2 linked regions of the Homo sapiens genome follow. The protein of the gene in region 1 interacts with the protein of each later gene in a pairwise test. Each region holds a gene or a part of one and is shown in the gene's direction. Other genes may lie near its edges.

Region 1 (3,500 bases):
CAATCCCTTTTCAACCTATGTCTGCTTTGTTTTTATTTTTATTTATTTATTTATGGGTTTTTTTTTTTTTTTTTTTTTGAGACAAGAGTTTTGCTGTTGTTGCCCAGGCTAGAGTGCAGTGATGCAATTTTGGCTCACTGCAACCTCCGCCTCCTGGGTCCAAGCAATTCTCCTGCCTCAGCCTCCCAAGTAGCTAGGCATGTGCTACCACACCTGGCTAATTTTTGTATTTTTTTTTTTTTTTAGCAGAGGCGGGGTTTCACCATGTTGGTCAGGCTGGTCTCGAACTCCTGATCTCAAGTGATCCGCCCACTTCGGCCTCCCAAAGTGCTGGGATTACAGGCATGAGCCACCGTGCCCAGCCTGCTTTGTTTTTAGACCTGGTTTCTCTTATGTGTCTTCTGACACAGTGCAGTTACACTAAAGCGGGTTACCCAAAGAATCTACCTGATGAAGAGAGTGAAGCTTGAAGGTCAGAGCAGACCAAGAGAGGCCAGGAGCAGAGCTCTTGTGAGACAGGGACCACGTGGAGGTTATCAGGGCTCTGGGCAAGGATGCTAATAGACCAGAGATGTCAGATGTCAGAATCCCCACCTTGACCAGTGGTTCTTCACCATTAATCCCTATCAGACCCTGATGACAGCCTTGGATTTCCCTCTCTCCTGGAAAATGCAAAGGCTCACACACCAAAAAAGTATTTTGGAGTAGCTTCAAGTTTCATAAACCCCCAGCTTCACCTCTGTGCTTCGCAGCATAGTAATTAAGGTCACACTCTGGATTAAATGGCCTAGGGTGAAATCCTCCTTTACTAGTTAGCTGTGTAACCTTGAGCAAGTTACTTAACTTGGTCTTGGGCCTCCAGTTCCCTCACTTTTAAATGAGGATAATCATAGCATTTGATTGTAGGATTGTTAGAACTAAATGAGTTAATGTATGTGACATTCCTAGCACGTGGTTAACTCTATAGTAGTGTTCACTATATAATAGTATTGCTGCCCTTGCACCTTAGCCCATTTAGTAAATGTTTATGGACAGAATGAATGAATAATTCTAGTTGAGATGCCATGCCTGGGGTAGAGCATTCCAATCAGCGTGTCGCAGTTGGTCTATAGGTTTTTTTGGGTTTTTCGTTTGTTTGTTTTTGAGACGGAGTCTCACTCTGTCGCCCAGGCTGGAGTGCAGTGGTGCAGTCTTGGCTCACTGCAAGCTCCGCCTCCCAGGTTTATGCCATTCTTCTGCCTTAGCCTCCCGAGTAGCTGGAACTACAGGCGCCCTCCACGCCCGGCTAATTTTTTGTATTTTTAGTAGAGACAGGGTTTCACCCTGTTAGTCAGGATGGTCTGGATCTCCTGACCTTGTGATCTGCCCGCCTCAACTTCTCAAAGTGCTGGGATTACAGGTGTGAGCCACCACGCCCAGCCAGTTTTTGTTTTGTTTTTTTCTTTTTTTTTGAGACGGAGTTTCGCTGTTGTTGCCCAGGCTGGAGTGCAATGACACGATCTCGGCTCACCGCAACCTCTGCCTCCCAGGTTCAAGCAATTCTCCTGCCTCAGCCTCCCAAGTAGCTGGGATTACAGGCATGTGCCACCATGCCCAGCTAATTTTGTATTTTTAGTAGAGACGGGGCTTCTCCATGTTAGTCAGGCTGGTCTCGAACTCCTGGATGGTCTATAATTTTGCCAAGATATTGATCCGCTCGCCCCTCAGGGCTGTCAAAGCCCCAGTTGGTCGCTTCTGGCTTGAAGCAGTGACATCTGCAATGTGAACTTCTGACTTTAAGCAGCAGCATCTGCAATGCAATGTACAAATATCTGTCTCTCTAGGTCCCCTGACATGAAAACAGTTTGGGTAGCACCAGTCAAAGATATCGGTTGGTAAGTCGTGAGAATCCAGTAGGCAGTCCAGATTCCAAGTCCAGGAGAATTTTGAGAATGGATGTCAAAGAGAGTCTTCACGACTGCACTGAGTTTAGAGGCCGTGGGCTTCCTGCAGGCTTCACAAGTGTTGGGGTCCACTGCTAGAGCAGGCTGCACACCACAGTGGGTACAGAAGATATCCTGCCAGCAGGAAGCTTCAGTGCTTCCCACCTTGCACATGAGGGACCCAGGGAGTCACTCACAGGATGTGTGGAGAGCCCACAGTGTGAGTTGCTGGAGAAACCACTGTGACGCAGAAACCAGGCTAGAGCCCAAAGCCTTGTGTAGGCAACGGACATTAAACAGATAGTGATGAGTACTGAAGTAGGTTGAGCCCAGAGGTGTGAGTGCTAGGAAAAGGTGGTACCTAGGCTGTGGGAGTTTATAACAACCCAGCCTTGTATGCAAGGTGGACTCTAAGAGCTGTAGGAAACTATGGAAGGGTTTTAGTCAAGGAAGTGGTATGTTTAGATTTGTACTCTTTTTTTCTTATAAATCTACTTTTATTTATTTACTTTTCATTAGCTTAAGTCCTTGAGGGGCACAGCGTCACACAGATTCTGTGTTCAATAGCTTTAGCAAGATTGCTTGGGAATTTAGCACAAACCATGCCACTGTTTCCATGGGCCTGAGTTTACCTTTCCCCAGATTATGCTGGTTTTCTTCAGTTTGCTGCCAGCAGTCAGTGTGTTGTTCTTTGCTTTATACATGTAAGTACATCTCTTGCCTAAATAGAATTAGTTTCATTTCGAGCATAAATACCTTCAATTTTTTTTTTTTTTTTTTTTTTTTTTTGGGACGGAGTCTCGCTCTGTCGCCCAGGCTGGAGTGCAGTGGCGCGATCTTGGCTCATTGCAAGCTCCACCTCCCAGGTTCATGCCATTCTCCTGCCTCAGCCTCCCAAGTAGCTGGGACTACAGGTGCCCACCACCACGCCCGGCTAATTTTTTGTATTTTTAGTAGAGATGGGTTTTCACCATGTTAGCCAGGATGGTCTCAATCTCCTGACCTCGTGATCCACTGTCCTCGGCCTCCCAAAGTGCTGGGATTACAGTCGTGAGCCACCGCACTTGGCCAATACCTCAATTTTAATAAGAGCTGTGTCCTCGCTTTGGTTCTGGAGGCCCCACTTACAGCTAGCAAAAAATGGCCTTGGACTACAGCCTTCCAAATGTATTGTATTTATCTTATTATTATTTTTGAGACAGAGTCTCTTTATCACCCAGGCTGGAATTCAGTGGTATGATCAAAGCTTACTGCAGTTTCAAATTCCTGGGGTCAGGCAGTGCTCCCACCTCAGCCTCTTGTGTAGCTAGGATTGCAGGCATGTGCCACTACACCTGGCTAATTTTTTTTTTTTTGTAGAGACAATGTCTTGCTGTGTTGCCCACATTGGTCTTGAACTCCTAGCCTCAAATAATCCTCCTGCCTCAGCCTCCCAAAGCACTGGGATTACAGGCATGAGCCACTACACCCCGCCCATATTTGCCTTTTGGAAGTCCTGTTCTCAGCAGGCCTCTACAGGCTCCAAGATAGTGGGAAGAGAGCTTTTTTTTTAAATTCACCCTGACAGCATAAACATGA
Region 2 (3,760 bases), on another chromosome or scaffold:
TATTAATAATCAGCCTCTCCCTAAGTGTATGTTATTCTTTGAAATATTAGCCATTGATAGGATGAGTCATCCTAGTTAGCAAGATATTTAGAAATAAGTTCTAGTGCATGAAGACAAATGGCTTCAGATTTTTTTCTTTTCTGATTTTTTGGTTTTTGTTTGTTTTTTACTTTTATTTATTTATTTATTATTTATTATTATTATTTTTTGAGACGGAGTTTTGCTCTTCCACCCAGGCTGGAGTGAAGTGGCGTGATCTCAGCTCACTGCAACCTCTGCCCCCCAGGTTCAAGCGATTCTCCTAACTCAGCCTCTTGCTTAGCTGGGATTACAGGGGCTTGCCACCATGCCCTGCTAATTTTTGTATTTTTAGTAGAGACGGTTTTCACCATGTTGGCCAGGCTGATCCTGAACTCTTGACCTCATGTGATCCACCTGCCTTGGCTTCCCAAAGTGCTAGGATTACAGGCGTGAGCCACCATGCCCGGCTTATTTTAATGTTTAAAGTCAATCCTGTATTTGGCAGAATTTCACTAAATTTAATGATAAATATTTAGGAGATTCTTAGTGGCTAATTCATAGTCTGAGTCACTGAAAGTCCTCATCATTTGGGAAAACATGTACTTTCTAACAGTGGAATGTAGTTCATAAATACATAAATATACAGATGTTTGAGTACATGCCCAAAAGTATGTTACCAATGGGGTGTGTGGTCAGAAACATTTGAAGGCCTTAGTTCTAATCACTGGAATCTTTGGTTTAAATTTTGAGGGTTTTTTTTGTTTTTGTTTTTTAAAACTGCTCCGAAAGAGTCAGTTATGTTGTTTGTACCTGTCATCCTTTTTCCATGTGCCTCAACATTTTCGTTATTCTTTTTAATATTCCCTGTAAGAGTTGGCATTAAGGAAATTGAAATGGGGACTTGCACATCTGCATGCAGTGTGTGGCTTCTGAGCAACTTAATGTCAGTGCAGAGTTTCTATACGTCTTGAACACAGAGTGCTTTTTTTACTTCAGAATATTCAATAATGAGCTGTGCAAGTCCTAGGCCTTTTGTATACTGATTAATTCATCATTCATTCATTCATTCATTCAGTGAACACTTAGTAAATGCCTTCTGAGTATGTGGCATCATGCCAAACATGGCAAACAGGGTAGGAAATACTTTCATTCTGTACCGTGTTTTCATTCTTGGTCCAAGAAATAACTTTTCTTCAGGTTTTGGTATTAGGTCAGAAACATGTTGGGGGCAGGCACAATGGCTCATGCCTGTAATCCCAGCACTTTGAGAGGCTGAGATGGGAGGATTGCTTGAGTTCAGGAGTTCAAGACCAGCCTGGGCAACATAGTGAGATCCCATCTCTAAAACAACAACAACAACAAAGAATGAAAAAGAAATATGTTGTTAGTAGTAAGTATCCAGGTTTGAATCCATTACGTTGTTAGAGTTGGAGAAAGGTGAAAATTTATCTGAACCTCTGCCTCTGAAGGCTAAACATTAATAAGAACCTAGTGAGGGCCCACTTTTTAAGCTTGAACATTTCTTAATATATTTGATACATAGAAAAGAATACAATAAAGAATATACATAAAAAGAGGAACATAATATAGCAAACATCTGTAAATCTGCCAGATAACCCAAGAAGTAGCATGTTATCAATAACATAATGTGTTTATCCACGTTCCTGTACTCCTGTTTTGTTTTTCTCTTTGCCGTGTGTTTTTAAATAGTTTTGTCACATATATATGCATAACTAAATTACCTTTTTTTTTTTTTTTTGAGTCGGAGTCTCACTCTGTCGCCCAGGTTGGAGTGCAGTGGCATGATCTCTGGCTCAATACAACCTCCGCCTCCCGGGTTCAAGCAATTCTCCTGCCTCAGCCTCCCAAGTAGGTGGGATTACAGGCGCCCGCCACCATACCTGGCTATTTTTGTGTTTTTAGTAGAGACAGGGTTTCACCATATTGGCCAGGCTGGTCTCAAACTCCTGACTTCGTGATCCGCCAGCCTCAGCCTCCCAAAGTGCTGGAATTACAGGCTTGAGCCACCGTGCCCGGCCCTCACCTTTTTTTTTTTGAGACAGAGTCTCGCACTGTCACCCAGGCTAGAGTGCAGTGGCGCGATCTTGGCTCACTGCAACCTCTGCCTCCTGGGTTCAAGCGATTCTCCTGCCTCAGCCTCCTGAGTAGCTGGAATTACAGGCACGTGCCACCACTCCCAGCTAATTTTTGTATTTTTAGTAGAGATGGGGTTTCACCATGTTGGTCAGGCTGGTCTCGGCTGACCTCCTGATCTGCCCGCCTCAGCCGCCCAAAGTACTGGGATTACAGGCGTGAGCCACTCTGCCTAGCCACTAAGTTACATTTTTAAAAAATCAGCTTCGGGACATACGGTATCTCAAATTGATATTATACTGTATATAGTTTTTTGTGGAGACAATGTCTTCCTATATTGCCCAGACTGGTCTCAAACTCCTGGCCTCAAGCAGTCCTCCTTCCTCAGTCTCCCAAGGTGCTGCGACTACAGGCATGAGCCATCATGCCAGGCCAGTCCTTGCTTTTTTCGTTCAATATAATTCTCTTCCAACCATAATATCTGACATAGTGATAATTTATTCATTTTTACTGCTTTATTAAAGTACATGTTATACAAATACTACCATGATATTCCTGTCAGTGGACATTAGGTTGTTTATTTTCTTTATATTTTGTTGTTAAATTGACAGTGCTGTCATGAATATTTCTGTATATGTATCCTGGCACACAGCAGCAAGCATTTTTCTAGGGAGGTAGTTAATCAAACTTTAGCATGCATCAGAGTCACTTGGAGGAGGAGGAGGACTTGAGAAAACTGCTGGACTTCATCCCCAAAGATTAATATTCAGTAGGTCTGGGGTGGGGTAGGAATGTACATTTTTAATTTGCAGGTGAAATGTGGTTCAGATGCTGCAGGTGACAGGATCACACATTTGAGAACCACCACTCTAAGGTATAGACACATAGTTGTAATTATTGGGTGTTAGAATATGTAAATATTCAGTTTTGCAAAATAATGCCAGATTGTTTTTCAAAGTCATTGCAGTAATTTATATTCCCACCACCATTGCATAAATCTTCCCTATTGGTCCACATCCACTCCAACACTTGATATTACCAGTATTTTCCATTTTAAAATTTTCTTTTTTCACCTTAGAGTTAATTATCTCATCTTTTTTTTAAATTATCTCATCTTTTAAAGAATAAGATCATGTAAATATTTAAAATGTATTTGACTAAAAGTATAGGTAGAGAAAATTGAGTTCTGTATTTAGTTACTAGTGGTGATTAGTGGTTTTGTTGGGTAAATCAGCCTGCATAAATTCAACAATTTATGTGTATTGTATATTACATAATGCACAATAAATACTTGTGTATTTATCATAACAACTTTTTGCAAATTAATTTTTTTATTGGACCTTTAGGATCCAGGCAGACAGCCAGATTAGAAAATATTTAGTGATATGGTAAATTGTTTTTGATACTTTATTAGGATTGATTAAAGTGGCAATAAAAGTTGAATTCAAATACACAAATACTTGTGTATTTATTGTGTATTATGTAATAAATCTTGTGGGTATAAAAGAAAAAAATATTTTACATGCATGTGCAGGTTTTAATTTTTAAATTTAAATAATACAGGTTACAATTTGAAAATGGTGTTTAAAGGTAAATTAAAACTAGCCAATCGTACTAGGCATGGTGTTCCATTTACTCTCCAACT

What was found. Proteins that work in one complex are often made in the same cells at the same time.
Region 2: the proteins of ZNF76 (region 1) and KCTD9 interact in binary tests that used the Homo sapiens proteins (3 or more experiments, as listed by UniProt).

Annotation. Positions count from the first base shown.
Region 1 is NC_000006.12:35,276,735-35,280,234, forward strand, and holds part of ZNF76 (zinc finger protein 76), read left to right. Parts: intron 1-3,500. UniProt on the Homo sapiens protein: May be involved in transcriptional regulation.
Region 2 is NC_000008.11:25,451,674-25,455,433, reverse strand, and holds part of KCTD9 (BTB/POZ domain-containing protein KCTD9), read left to right. Parts: intron 1-1,858; exon of another isoform or gene 1,859-1,890; intron 1,891-3,760. UniProt on the Homo sapiens protein: Substrate-specific adapter of a BCR (BTB-CUL3-RBX1) E3 ubiquitin-protein ligase complex, which mediates the ubiquitination of target proteins, leading to their degradation by the proteasome.